Homo sapiens: one gene and its partner. The protein of the gene in region 2 interacts with the protein of the main gene of each other region in a pairwise test. Each region holds a gene or a part of one and is shown on either strand. Other genes may lie near its edges.

Region 1 (7,619 bases), on a different chromosome or scaffold from region 2:
AAAGAGGAGGCGACAGCCAGGCACGGTGGCTCACGCCACCTGTAATCTCAGCACTTTGGGAAGCCGAGAGGGTGGATCACCTGAGGGCGGGAGTTTGAGACCAGCCTGACCAATGTGGAGAAACCCCATCTCTACTAAAAATACAAAATTAGCCTGGTATGGCGGCATGTGCCTATAATCCCAGCTACTTGGGAGGCTGAGGCAGGAGAATCGCTTGAACCCAGGAGGCGGAGGTTGCAGTGAGCCGAGATCGTGCCATCGCACTCCAGCCTGGGCGACAAGAGTGAAACTCCATCTCAAAAAAAAAAAAACAAGAGGAGGTGACAGAGAGACAGATGTACCTGAGGGATGAAGGAGATGGGAGGGAGCCCAGAGGATCTCAAGACGGTGGTGGGAATGGCTGGGGGGCTTGGGAGGGGTCCAGAAAAAGGCAGCTGAGTGGGTCCTGATGGCTGGGAAGCCTTTGCAGGGAATGGAGGCCAGGCCCAGGTGGGAGGACAGGAGGCGTGTGGGACCAGGTGTGGGCACCAGTGAGGAGGGAAGCTGAGGGAGGAGGAAGGCTGGGATGCTGGCTGGGCAGGGGCAGCGGCAAGGCGGAGTGGCCTGAGCTAGGTCCTCACTGCACTTGGTACCCAGAGATACCCTGGTGTGGCGAAGGCTGGGCGCTGGTCAGCCTGAGGGTCCCACGGCGCATGGCTAAAGCGTTCTTCCAGCCTCACTCCCTGGTCTTGGGAGCACACTCTCCCCTTCTCCTGCCCAACTCCTACACATCCTTCCAAGCCCACGCGCTGCAAGCCCACGCCCCCGAATCTCAGCGTCCCTGCCCAGGCTGCCGACACGCACGCGGAGGTGATGGCGCGGTAGCGCTCCTGGCCAGCGGTGTCCCAGATCTGCGCCTTGATGGTCTTGCCGTCCACCTGGATGCTGCGGGTGGCGAACTCCACGCCGATGGTGCTCTTGCTCTCCAGGTTGAACTCGTTGCGGGTGAAGCGCGACAGCAGGTTGCTCTTGCCCACGCCTGAGTCCCCGATGAGCACCACTGGGCGGGAAGGCGAGGTTCTGTGAATCCCCACACTCCACCCACGACTGCCCCCACAACCTTCCCGCCGGTTCCCTGGGTGCTGCACCAACGCGGCTGCCAACGGTGTGGAGGAGTCGAGAGATGCCTGGAGCCCAGGGCCTGCAGGCACTGTGCTAAGTGGTGCAGAAGTGAAGGCAGGCTCCTGCCTTCCAGAAACAGCCACTGCGGATAGCACAACACCTGCCTGTGTCTGGTCCTCAGAGCAGGGCTGTCCCAGCTGGGGCAAGGGGACCCAGGCAGCCAGGCAGGCAGAGCAGCTTGAGATCCATCAACCCTGAGCCTCCACCTGCAGCCTGGTGGCTGGGCAGCCAGACACGGCTTGAGAAGGCTCCTGAGCGGGGTGACCTTGGGCAAGTCACTTCACCTCTGGACTACTTTTTCCAAATGTGTGAACAGGAAGGCAGTCACAGGAGGAGGAAGTAAGAGCAGGCATGGCCAGGCACGGTGGCTCCCGCCTGTAATCTCAATGCTTTGAGAGGATGAGCCAGGCGGATCACTTGAGGTCGGGAGTTCGAGACCAGCCTGGCCAACATGGTGAAATCCCGTCTCTATAAAAAATACAAAAAGTACCCGGGCGCGGTGGCTCACACCTGTAATCCCAGCACTTTGGGAGGCCGAGGCGGGTGGATCACGAGGTCAGGAGATCGAGACCATCCTGGCTAACGTGGTGAAACCCCATCTCCACTAAAAATACAATAAAATTAGCTGGGTGTGGTAGCGGGCGCCTGTAGCCCCAGCTACTTGGGAGGCTGAGGCAGGAGAATGGCGTGAATCCGGGAGGCGGAGCTTGCAGTGAGCCGAGATCACGCCACCGTACTCCAGCCTGGGTGACAGAGCGAGACTCCATCTCAAAAAAAAAAATAATAATAATAATAATTAGCTGGGCGTGGTGGCTACTGTAGCCCCAGCTACTCAGGAGGCTGAGGCAGGAGAATCGCTTGAGCCCAGGAGGTGGAGGCTGCAGTGAGCCGAGATCGAATCACTGCACTCCAGCCTAGGCAACAGAGATTCTGTCTCCCCCCACGAAAAGAGCAGGCATCGCACAGGAAGGGACACGAGTAGGCAGCTGTCACGGTTGTTGTGGTTTCTGGTCAGGGCATGGGAAGGGTCACTGCTCCAGGTATGTAAGTGACAGGACATGAGGAGCTACTCCCACCTCAACCCCCACCTCTCCTGGTGCAGCAAACCCACATCCAGCTTCGGCACAGATGGCTGAGTGGGAAACAGGAATGTGCCCTGAGGACGCAGCCCGGAGGAAAGAGCCTGCAGCCACCTCCCACCACCCCTGTCCCCAGGGTCAGGTCCCCTGCTGAGCTGCAGGGAGCTCCAGCCAAGGCTAAGTCCTCATTCAAGGGGCAGTCCGTGTGGCAGTCCACGTGTGTGCACAGCTCCTCACAAGGCTCCAACACAGGTATGCATTGTCCCAGGAGGGGGGTGCACAGCAGAGCAGCTTGCCAAGATGCAAACCCTGGCCCAGAAAGGAGTCAGCGCAGCGTGGACAGAACAGAGATGAGGGTTTGTGGGCAACAGCACCCAGGGACGGGGGCCTGAGCCCAGTCGACACGGGGTGTGCAGCAGGCCTGTCTCATGCTGGCCAAGGAGCATCAGGAACACTTTCCCTGAGCAGAGCAGGTGCCTGCTGGTCAGGCCAGGGGTGAGCTGCCTTGTAAACTGTTTCCTGTCCCAGCCATGGAAGCACTGTCCCTATGGGCCCAGCCGCCCCAGGCTCTGGGGTGGGGTCTGGGTGAGCTGTCCCCAGACCCAGAACATACCATGTGGGGAAGATCAGTGTGTGTGTGTGCACTTGAATACAGCCAACCAGACGCCCCAGCCAGAAGCCCCGTGGACCCCCAAGTGTGGGCCTTGGGCCCCGGCACCTGAGGGTGGGTTGGCTCAGTGGCTTGGTCATCCCTGGTCCCAGGGAGTTAGGGGGCATCCACTGAGGATGAGGCTTCCTTGTCTGGGAAGAGATGGGTATGGCTGTTCCTCCTGAGCTCGGGGAGGTGCTGGCAGCCAGGCTGAGCCCTGGCTGACCCAGAGGTCCGCTGGCCCCACTCGGGACCCCTGCTACATTGAGGGAGCAGGCCCTGGAGCCCACCAGGCAGCCCTCCTCTGCCCTTCCCCTGGCCACACTGTGGGGCTGTACCTACACGTTTGGAATTTTCCCTCTAGAAAACATTCTCTCCTGACCCAACTTCCTGCCTCGGGCACTGGAAGGTATCATCTACACTCACTCACTCCACCTCCTGTCCCCCAGTCCTAGAACTCAAACCAAGCACGCTTTCGCCCCCACAGTCAGTGTCAGCCTCAGCTACCCCCACTCCCCCGGGCCTGTGCAGCAGGCACCCAGCCAGCTCTCCCTCCTTCCCTGCCTGCAGGGGCTCCACACCCCGACTCCTCTCCTCACAGTCACTCCCACTCAGTCTCCCACTCTACCTTCGAACCTCAGGGAGCCTCAGGACAGGCATCTCTGTCCACACCCAGTCCCCAGGTGACCCCATCCAGGCTCATGGCTGTAAATACCAGCCATGGGCTGGTAACTCCTATATTACCTCTCTCCCTAGAAGCCCAGACTGGCGTGCCCATTGTCTCCTTCATGTCTCCTCAGGGGCCCCAGGCCCCTCATACCCAGAAGAGCAGAGCCAAGCTCCCGATCACTCCCTAAGCCTGCTCACCCACCGCTCACCTACCCTCCTTATCTTGGTTAACTTTGGCTTGGTCCTACCAGGCACTCATGCCAGAAACCTGGAGTCATTCTCGACTCCTTCCTTTCTCTCGCATCTCAGAATCAATCCTTCAGCACATCCGAAACAGATCCAAGAGAAGGGAGGACGAGGGGTGCACCCCACCATGTCTCCCTGGGCGATTCCATTCCAGACTCTCAGACCCTGGAAGGTATTGTCTGTGCGGTCCCTGTGTTCACGCTCATCACCAACCAAAACGCTGTCCTCCTGCAGCAGCCACCAGAGAGCGCCCGTGAGTGCCGAGCCAGGGCACCTCCCTCCCTCCTCTGCAGACAACCCTCCGTGGCCCCCACCTTCCGCAGGGGAAAAGCCACAGTCCTCCCCGCTGCCCACAGGGCCCTCCCCTCCTCCCTCCCGCCCCCCCCCCGGCTCACTCTGCTCCAGCCACACAGGCCTCCATGCTGTTCCCCCAACACGCCAGGTGCGATCCTGCCTCAGGGCCTTTGCACGGGTTGCTCCTGCTGCCAGAAACGCTCTTCTCCAGGCACACACCTGGCTCCCTCCCTCATCCCCTTCGTGTGGCCCCTTAAATGCCACTTGGCCAAGAAGGCCCTCCCTGCTATGCTACTAAAACTCTACTCTCCGAATTACCCTGCTCCCGGACCCAGTTCTTCCTCCGTCACTCTTGCCACTCTCTCACCTGTCAGGTGGCATTTATCTTTTGCCAGTCTGCCCCAAGGGCAGGAATCAGGTCCTGGCACAGTGCTTGGCACACAATAAACACCCAAGAAAATGTCTGTCAAGTGAACAAACAAAATGCCAAAAAGGCTGGCAGAGCCTCCCACGCATGCCGCCTGCCCCATACCTAGAGGATGCCAGGTCACCACCCTTGGGCCACAGGTGAGGAGGGCAGGATCAGGCAGCCCCTACAACCCCACCTGGTACCCGCTCTGGTTGGCTGCTTGGAAGCCAAGAATAACAAGAACAAGGAGAATATTCGATGAGCTTGTGCTAACAAAGCTCTTGATGTGCGTTACTTCGCAGAAGCCTCCTGTAGCCCATTTTTACAGATGAGGAAACTGAGGCTTGGATGGGGAACGGGGTGCGGGGCAGAGCAGGACCCTGAAGCTATGCATGTTTGTGGGCTCGCCCTCACCTCCCAACGGTGCTCCCCAAGTGACTTGTCTGGAGCCACCGCCTGGGAAGTGAGCCAGGCAGGATTTGAACCCAGGTCTTCTGCATCCACAGTCCAAGTTCTTCCTTCGCAACTCACTGCCACACTCACTGTCCTACCCCAAACCCCAGCACGTGGCTCGGGAGTCGTGGTTCTGCCTTATGGGGTGGGCATTGAGGCTCTGGGCACCCCAGCTCCCACCGCATAGGGCAGCCTGTCCCCCTGGGGCGGCCAGCAAACTCCTACTCATCCTTCAAGACCCCTCGGCTCAGACCTCTCCTCTCCCCAAAGACCACTGCTTGGCCTGGCGTGAAAGACCTAAGACAACGGGGCTGGCATTCTCTCACGTCACCATGGGTGCCCCGCACAGGGCTACCAAGTGGACTTCAGAGAAAGACAGAAAGATGGCCGGGTACAGTGGCTCATGCCTGTAATCCTGTAATCCCAGCACTTGGGGAGGCCGAGGCAGGCGGATCATTTGAGGTCAGGAGTTTGAGACCAACCTGACTAACATGGTGAAACCCCGTCTCTATGAAAAATACAAAAATTAGCCGGGTGTGGTGGTGGAGGCTGAGGCAAGAGAATCATTTGAACCTGGGAGGCGGAGGTTGCAGTGAGCCGGGATCGTGCCACTGCACTCCAAGCTGGGCGACACAGCGAGACTCCATCTCAAAAAAAAAAAAAAAAAAAAGAAAGATGGAAAGAGGTGGAGTGAATGTAGGCGTGTGGCCCAGCACCTCCCAACCAAGCCAGTAGGGATGAGAATCGGCTCCCAGGCCACTGGGGGCCAAGATGGACTCACTGTGAGGGCCCCCATCTACACCACCAACCTTAACCTCCTTTCCACGGCAGCTACGGGAGCCTGGCCAAGGCCAGGGAGGTCTGCTCAGTTCTCACGTCCTCAGGAAATAAGACAGGAAACTCGGGCCCTGCCCAGGCATTCCCGACACCTTCACACCATTCCAGCCTTGCCCCAGCTGTACAGCCTTAGTGGCTCCTCAGCCCCATCAGTTTGTTTGTTTTTGTTTGTTTGTATTGAGATGGAATCTCCCTCGCCCAGGCTGGAGTGCACTGACACAATCTCAGCTCACTGTACTCTCCGCCTCCTGAGTTCAAGAGATCCTCCTGCCTCAGCCTCCCGAGTAGCCGGGATTATAGGCGTGCACCACGACGCCCAGATAATTTTTGTATTTTTAGTAGAGGTGGGGTTTTGCCATGTTGGCCAGGCTGTCTCAAACTCCTGACTTCAAGTGATTCACCCACCTCGGCCTTCCAAAGTACTAGGATTCCAGGCGTGAGCCATGGCACCCAGCCCCATCAGTTTTGCCCTCAAGCACTTTGGCCAGGCTGGGTCCCCAGTGCTTTGCAGGCCTCAGCTGTCCACATTCTCAGGGCTGCCCCAGGGACAGATGTAAATATTATCATTCTCCCTGAACAGCTGGGGACACTCAACCCAGAGTGACCAAGTCAGAGCAAAGGCCAAATGGCCACTGAACAGATCAATGACAGGCCAGGTGCAGTGGCTCACGCCTGTAATCCCAGCACTTTGGGAGGCCAAGGCGGGTGGATCACTTGAGCTCAGGAGTTCGAGACCAGCCTGTCAACATGGCGAAACCCCGTCTCTACTAAAAATACAAAAAATAGGTGGGCATGGTGGTAGGCACCTGTAATCCCAGCTACTCAGGAGGCTGAGGCAGGAGAATCATTTGAACCCAGGAGGCGGAGGTTGCAGTGAGCTGACACTAAGCCACTGCACTCCAGTCTGGGTGACAAAACAGGTGAATGGCAAAGAGGCTGAGCTGCCCAACCAGTCCCTGGCACTGGGTGCCCGATGCAGAGAGGTGGCCAGCGGGGCAGTGGCGGGCTGGTCCAGGATGCAGGCTGGGGATGAAAACTTCATTGTCTAGGACACAAGCAATCTGTTGTCTTGGGGAAATAAAGAGCCCTTGAGGACACAGCTCCGAGCATTTCCACAGAAGTTGGTGGCTTCACTGGCTGGGAAGCGACCCCCCTACCCCAGACACGCCACTTGGCTGACAGAGCAGGCAAGCCCGGTTGGCAAAAACAAAGAACTGGCACCTCTGAGAAGTCCTAGGTGCCCTGGCCTGCCCCATGACAGTGTGGTGGCCCTGGGGGCCCAGACCCTAATGCTCAGGCAGACTGAGAGACTCTTCAGGGGAATGGTGCCCCCATTCCGGCAGAGCCTGGCGGAGCCAAGCAGTGCCCCCATCCCTCCCCTGGAAGCTGGTCCTAAGCATCCTAGGCCCCAGGGACCGGCACTGGGGGCCACTCTTGTCTCAGCTCTTCTATGGGGAGGTGTACAGAGCCAGGGCACTGGAGGGACCCCCATTCTAAATGGGGAAGATGGTATGTTTGGGTCCCCAAACAGCAACTGGAACAGCAGGCCCACTGTGAGGTCTGCCCAGGCTTGAGGGCTGGGAGCTGCCTCAGGAGCCTCAGCACAGAAAGGGAAGCACCAGGCAGGCCCCTTCCCTGGGGACAGGGGCCACCTTGTCCTTGGGCAGGGGAGGGGTGGACAAGACCCAGAGGACAGGGCCTGGGGCAGCTGCGGCCCGTTTCCCCCACGACCCATGTCCTCCAGGGCCAGGTGAGCCCTGATTGGCCAGGGCCTCTAGGGTAGGGGAAGGGCTCTGAGAGGACCTCAGTGGCCCTTGGGGAC
Region 2 (7,619 bases):
AGGGGTAAAATGCTTTTAAATGTTATCAACAGGGTTTGTGATGTTATTGCATTCAAAGTGATTTTCATATATTGCTAAACCCTTAACATTTTATTTGTGGATAAATGGGGACCATGTATTTGATGAGATATCTTTATTGGTAATATTTCTAGTTTTTTAATATATTTAATAGCTTCCTTTTCTAGCACAGCTGTACCTGTGGCCCAGTAAGAGACAGACTTGAGCCGCCGGTATATTTCAAGGAAGATATTTAATATTCTGCACATTGCTAAACTTTTTCAGCATATTCCCAAGTGCTTTTTAGAAAACTGTTTCGAGTGATGAGGACTACCAGCTAACTTAGATGTCCTATGAAACTGCTGGGTGTGACACTTTTTACATTTTGACACTGAAGACATATATTTACAGCTTGTCTTCCAGTTGTGTCATGATAGATAAAGAAGTATGACAACTAAAATTATTACTTTACTTATTTTCTTACCTTGAAAATATATGTCTTTTTTCTCTCTTAAGGAATGGGGAAAAAGGGTCTGAGCCAGAACCCTTTGAGTGGGCCTGGGAAGAGAACTTCTGTATCTCCTCCTTTAGAGGATGTCTGGGTTGGTTCTGGCATGAGATTTAAAGAAATAATACAATGTTTAGTAATAGAATGTTAAAATCATTGATGCTGTTGTGTAATATCCATTGATTTTTTACAATAGAAGTAGGTGATGTTGACTTTTTTTTTTAATGCTCATGAAAAGTAATAACAACCAGAGTCTGTAGAGTTAGATGTGACTCAGACATATGCAGATTTTAGGACGTGTGTGTGTCTCAGCGGTGCACCTGTGTCCTGGCCTCTGGCACCCTTACTGCCAATTTTGTCCCATTTCTGACCACACAGCACCAATTGCTTGGGAATAGTTCCCATATGTGTGCTGGTTTTTGAACATGGACCTGTGCCCACTAAAAATTGAACAGAGGCCATGTACAGTTTAAATCCAGTACTCCAGAGGTGAAAAAAAGTCAGCTAATCCAGTAAGCTCCAAATGCTGTGTCTTCGTTTTATCTTTCTGAAGACTGGAAAAACAAATGCTATCTCTGAAATGATTCTTGAAGATCTCATTAAGACTTCCCTATTATGTCATTTTCAAAACAAAGCAACTAAAGTTATTTGTCATTGCTACATTTTCAATGAGTATATTTGTAAAAGTTCTTTGCAGTTTTTTTTGGGGGGTGGGGAATGGACATTATAGTGTATTTACAGTTTGTAGTCAAATACTGATTTGCTTTATTCAGGTTTACATAGGTCTTTACAGTTTCCTACTAAAAAAACAAGACAATGTAAACACATACACACACACACACAGTTGTAGCTTACTTGTAAGAATATAGTTCTAGAAATAAAAATTGAATAAACATTTAATGCAAGGCAGACTGCCTTCCAGGAGCTTATACTCTAGCAGTAGAAAATTTGCATTGTCTTTCTCTTCAGCTCTCATGTCTCCTTATTAAATACAGTGTCCTGCAGTATGTGCCAGCCATGTGGTTAACCTTATTAACATATGTGGTTCATCAAATAAGAAAGAGCTTCTATTTTCCTGCAGATGTTATTCATCAACTTTAGATTTTTTTCTTTATTGACTTTAATCTGACATTGGGAAGTTACATATCATTCCTTGTGCCTCAATTTCCTCATCTATGAAATAAAGATGTTAAAGTAGATGATTTATTGGTCTTATCTCTAAAAGTCTGTGAATTTCCACTACCCCCACCCCCTTCCATTTTGGGGGTAATTAATTTTTTTTTACTCATATTTGCTTTGATTTGTTACATACGTGCTCGTTTTTGTTTGCAAATTTTTGGTACATTTTTTGCAAAGTATATTCACCTACATTCTATAAAGCCTGAGGTACTACAGAGTATTTCTGAGCTACTGTTCGTCAGATGTGTTTCTCTCCCTATTGAAAATAGCTCTGTTTTCCAAAACTTTGAGTTAACTGGGTATATAATCTGCTTCATTTCCAGGCTTTTTGAGTGCTCAATTGTATGTTATTTAAGGTTGTCTATTTCACAGAAATCGCTGTCATTTCTTATTTCTAGCCCCTGTTTCTTCAGATTTTACCATTTGCCTTATATAAGGGATTTTCTCAGTTTAAGGTCTCAGGCTAATAGTATTTTAAAATATTGATATTCTAAGAAATGGCTAGTTTTGATGCAACTATATCTGAATTGATTGAATAGCTCCAATTTAGTTAATCAAGAAAATATTTTTCTTCCATGTTACGTGCAAAGATGTAGCTGGTATTTATATCATGTGCCAGTATTTCAACTTGATATACAGTAAATGTAATCTTCTCTTGGCATATCCAGTTGGTAACAATGAGAGAAAGAACTAATGTAAAATTAGATCAGAGTTCCTTTGTAGCTAAGAAAATTTGTTACACTCGATTAGAGCTATATTTAAATAATAACCTGTGTGCAGGAATGGATATTATGCCTCATTGCTAAGTTATGTGAAAACATTGTAGAAACTCTTTCAGGCTTGATTTTGTAGTTTTTTTTGGCTGTTTTCCCATAGAATGACCACTTGTGACATGGCCAACTGGAGAATTTCTCATGGATAAAAATACTATAAAACCAAAATATTGCTTCTTGTATATCATTTAAATACAGATAGTGCCATACATTGAAGGGACTAAAACGTAAGATTTGGCTTCATTTTCAAAATAATTTTTATTTGGTATTGTCACAGTAGCAATAGTAAAATGAAGCAAATAGATTCAAACAAGAAGCATTTTAGGTTTTTTTTTTTCCTTTTGAAAACTTCACAAGATTTATTTTTTGTCACTTCTTGCATTTTACTTATTTTTTGCATATTTTATTCAGGAGTAGGCTTTGATTCATTTTATGTCAATCTAAATGACATCATATGCTGTTTTAATGATTAGCAAGCTATATGCAATGATCTCCAATGTTAACAAAATTCTTTTGCTACTTTTACGTAAGTAATATTTTGGGATGGGGCCAGGTATTTATTATTGTATTAAAATGTCATGAGATTCATTTTATAATGCTCAAAAATAATTTGTATTGGTGAATTCTTTCAAAATCTCTGCCTCAATGTCTTTTAATGTTAAAAAAAAATGTCCTTAGGCCGTGAGCAACACTTAATCCCATATGGAAAACTTCTAGCATTGATAAGAATTTTTGATGATGAGTGATTTTCAAATTACAAAAGAAAAGATTATCTGAAAACATTTTCAAACTTGCCAAAGACCTATTCATTCCTTCAGTATATGTTACATCACAGAGACAATGATCAGTTTTTTAAACTAAATAATAAGTAAAGCCCGAAATACTGTGGCTGACAGATTCTTATTCAGAGCTTAGGTTGCCTTGATGTATAGTTACTTTACCTAAAAGGCTATTTGTATGTAACAGAACTCAGTATCCTCTCTCTATTATGTGTTACAGCCAATTTTTTTTTCTTCTCTTTAAGGTGGTTTAGATTAGAATCCAAACAAGGAAAACGAATCAAAAACAGGGGTGAGATAAAGGTCAATATTCAGTTTATGAGGAACAATATGACCGCAAGTATGTTTGACTTATCAATGAAGGACAAAACCAGATCTCCTTTTGCAAAGTTAAAAGATAAGATGAAGGGTAGAAAAAATGATGGAACATTTTCTGATACGTCTTCTGCAATCATTCCAAGTACTCACATGCCCGATGCCAATAGTGAATTTTCAAGTGGTGAAATACAGATGAAATCCAAACCAAAAAAGCCTTTTCTCTTGGGTCCTCAGCGACTCTCGTCAGCGCATTCAATGTCTGATTTATCTGGGTCCCATATGTCTTCTGAGAAACTGAAGGCTGGCACCATAGGTCAAACACATCTTCTCGGACACCAGTTAGATTCCTTTGGAACAGTTCCAGAAAGTGGTAAGTGTCACATTCTTGTGTACTCATTGGTCTGAACTACCCTTTTAGTTTTTAAAGTTTAATTTCTAAATTTAGTAAATCAAAATAGCAGTTGCTTTGTAGTATTTTCCAAATTTTGTCATTCATCAAATATTGAGTACCTACTATACCTCAAATTGGTAAGTTCCTTGAAGGCAGAGCTTGTCTGCATTTGTATTTATATTATTAGATGATAATAAAATGAGTGCCAGTTTCCTTTTATGGCTTGGCTGCCTGTTTTACTGCTGTTTCTGCTATCTCAAAACCCTGAGCATAAATGAATGTTCCATTTCATCATAAAGTCCTTAGAAGAAAACTTTTATGTTCAGAAGTAAGAAAGTAAATTTAATGCTAATGAAAAAGTCTCTGAGAATTTTTAACATTATCATGCCAACCAGAACCTCTAGTTTTGACATCATAGTTTATATGATTGTGAGCTGAATACATTACTAATGGTCTAGCAATATGCTAGTTGTTATCAGCCTCGATGCTTCAGACTGCTACACCTTAGCATTTTAAGATTGTTTCCTTGATTTTTTGAAGGTTAATACATTTAAGTGGCTAATTGCTCTCATTCTAAAAGCAGCAGAATGCACACAGACTGTGTCAAATAGTGTGATGTAATGTGTCACTGATTATGTACTAACTACAAAATTGTTTGTAGGAAGTCTCAAATCTCCACACAGAAGAACATTAAGCTTTGATACTTCTAAAATGAACCAACCTGACAGCATTGTGGATGAAGGTGAATTGTGTTTCGGAAGACAAAATGACCCATTTACAAATGTGACTGCTTCATTACCCCAAAAATTTGCAACACTGCCAAGGAAGAAAAATCCATTTGAAGAAAGCAGCGAAACATGGGACAGCAGCATGAATTTATTTTCAAAACCAATTGAAATAAGAAAAGAAAATAAAAGAGAGAAAAGGGAGAAAGTTAGCCTGTTTGAAAGAGTGACTGGAAAAAAAGATAGCAGAAGATCTGATAAACTTAACAATGGGGGATCTGATAGCCCTTGTGACTTGAAATCACCTAATGCATTTAGTGAAAATCGCCAGGACTATTTTGATTATGAGTCAACCAATCCATTTACAGCAAAATTCAGGGCTTCAAATATAATGCCATCTTCAAGGTAAGCTTAATATGGGGGAAGTTCTACTATTTGGGAAAATCTTGTACTTGAAGGTATCAAATATTTCTTTTAAATGCTAGAATATTTTCAAGTCATTTTATTTTATTTGAAAAACATTTTTATTTGTATAATTAAATTATAGAGCCAGGCAATGTTGCATATATTTTTGGAACTGAACTTTTTTATCTTAAGAAGATAAAAGACTCTTATTCTCTATCCTGGTCTACTTCCACTTATGTGAGCCAGAAATTCACCAAAACTTAGAAAACAACATGGCTTGTGATGAGACATGGCGAGAGTGAATTGCCAGTGGGTGTTAGTTCAAGCCAGAAATTTAGGTGATAATGTTTCTAGGGATTCGTTCATGGGCTACCTGGAAAGGACCAACAGCAGCCCATGTGCTATTCTTTAAAAAACGCCAGCTTCAGTATTAATGGCTTTCCTAATAGATGTTAATTATCCTTATTAAATGGCTATTTAGAAGTGGTTTTTATTTGAGAATGCTTGTTATTGGAATTCAGTAACCCTCATGGGTTCTGTAGGTATACCCAAGGGATCTATATGATGATTTATAGTCAGAAATAATCACTCATGAGAAAGATTGGATTTTCCAACTTTGAGTTTTCAGTTATATATATAATGGTGCTTTTCTTATTCCTTAGTATATCTAAATTATATCTATATATCTAAATTTAAATCTATATCTATATAAATTTATATCTACATATATAGATATAAGTGTAGATATGCTAAGGAATAAATTTAAATATGGTTATGGATTTTACAGAAGTAAACGATGAAATAGCTGATTAAGGAAACCTCAAGCAAAGAAAAGATAAATTTATTCCCATCTTAAGTATAGTTGGCCCCCCATATTTGCAGGTTCTGCATTTTTGGATTCAATCAACCATGGAGTGAAAATATTTAAAAAAATAAATAAGAAATAACAATATAGTAATGAAAAAATAATGCAGATTTAAAAAACAGTACAGTGTAACAACTGTTTACATTGGTTTACATTGTATTAGGTATTATAAGTAATCTAGAGATAATTTAAAATATATGGGAGGTTGCGTATATGTGCAAATACTGTACCATTTTGTATAGGGGACTTGAATATCCCTGGATTTTGGTATCCTTGGAGTCCTGGAACCAATCTCTCTCAGATACTGAGAGATGACTGTAATTATCTTGGAAGAGCATGCTAGAGTGTTTACCACGTAATAGAAGATTTTCTTCAAGACAATATTATAGAGTGTACAGACCTGAATGGGAATACTGGCTTAGAAGTGCTATGACCTCCATAAACCTCAGTATCTCCATCTTTGAAACAAGGAAAATAATCCCACTTGATAGGATTCGGTGAGGATAAATGAAAGTACATAATACAAAGCCAGGCCCCAAATAGGGAATCCATAAATGGTGACTACAATTATGTTTGATGTATCGTCATGTTATATTTTACTAAAAAACAGTGCTTTGTTTTGTCCCACTAGAAACAGCAAATAGAGTATTAACAATCAATCACTTTTAGGCTGTGCCCTCTCACCTCTCTTATGTATCTTCCATGATATTTTAAAAATTTGCATTTAAATTTTCAAAGTGAAGTGTACTTTTTTTGTTTTCTTTTACCTATAAATGGATATTTGCCATGGTTTAAAAGAGTATTCTGTTCTGTTTATAAACCATACTCCAGAAGAATAACATTTTTATCATATGGTATCAATATTTTATTGAAGAGTTTATAGTTTTGATATGCCATTCAAAAATATTTTGGTATTTTACATACTGTACTTCACATATTACATTAAATCTTATATGGGTAAATAGAAATATATTTGCTTCTTTCCCTCTTTACTAAACTTTTTTTTACAGAAGGTTGTTGGAAACAACTGTCTGAGGTAACTTGGAGATGGGGCAATTTAGCTAATTTTAGAGTCAGAAGAAAAGCAAGAAAATGGAAAATGATAGGAAAATAATGTTTTTACATTATGGGTGCATATGGAAAAAAAAGCTTATTGAGTATTTGCAAATCTTTAATTGCCCTGTATTTGAGTTGTTTATGTGGGCTGTTACGGGTTTTAAAAGTGCCTGTGGCATTTTGACACATCCAGGCTTTGTTTTCAGTTACTTTATTATTATTGGCTGTTTCTAGCAAAATTAGAGCTGTTTTATGATGTATGAAATGATTGCAAGTATGTAAAAAAAAATAGTTGTTTTTCATTTTATGACTTTCTCTTCTTCATATTTATGAGATGCCAGATATGAGGACAGAACATTTGTGGATTCCTAGGAAGTTATTCTTTTTGCATCACAAACCATCCGTGTGGTAAATGTAAAACATTTGCAGTAAAGGGGTAGTTCTAGTTAATCTTATAAAAAAGAAGAATTGAATATAAATAGACCCAAGAAGAGTGTGCAGTTCACACTTTTGGCAAGCAGCTTTATCTTGAGTGGAATTTGGGAGGATATTGCCAAGGTAGTGTTGTCTTTACGTAACAGTATAGTTCTATTTTTCCTCCCAGTATCAACCCTCAGCTATCT

What was found. Proteins that work in one complex are often made in the same cells at the same time.
Region 1: the proteins of RAB11FIP2 (region 2) and RAB11B interact in binary tests that used the Homo sapiens proteins (3 or more experiments, as listed by UniProt).

The regions. Positions count from the first base shown.
Region 1 is NC_000019.10:8,393,283-8,400,901, reverse strand, and holds part of RAB11B (ras-related protein Rab-11B), read right to left. Parts: intron 1,040-7,619; coding exon 844-1,039; intron 1-843. UniProt on the Homo sapiens protein: The small GTPases Rab are key regulators of intracellular membrane trafficking, from the formation of transport vesicles to their fusion with membranes.
Region 2 is NC_000010.11:118,036,428-118,044,046, reverse strand, and holds part of RAB11FIP2 (rab11 family-interacting protein 2), read left to right. Parts: intron 1-3,481; coding exon 3,482-3,924; intron 3,925-4,606; coding exon 4,607-5,075; intron 5,076-7,619. UniProt on the Homo sapiens protein: A Rab11 effector binding preferentially phosphatidylinositol 3,4,5-trisphosphate (PtdInsP3) and phosphatidic acid (PA) and acting in the regulation of the transport of vesicles from the endosomal recycling compartment (ERC) to the plasma membrane.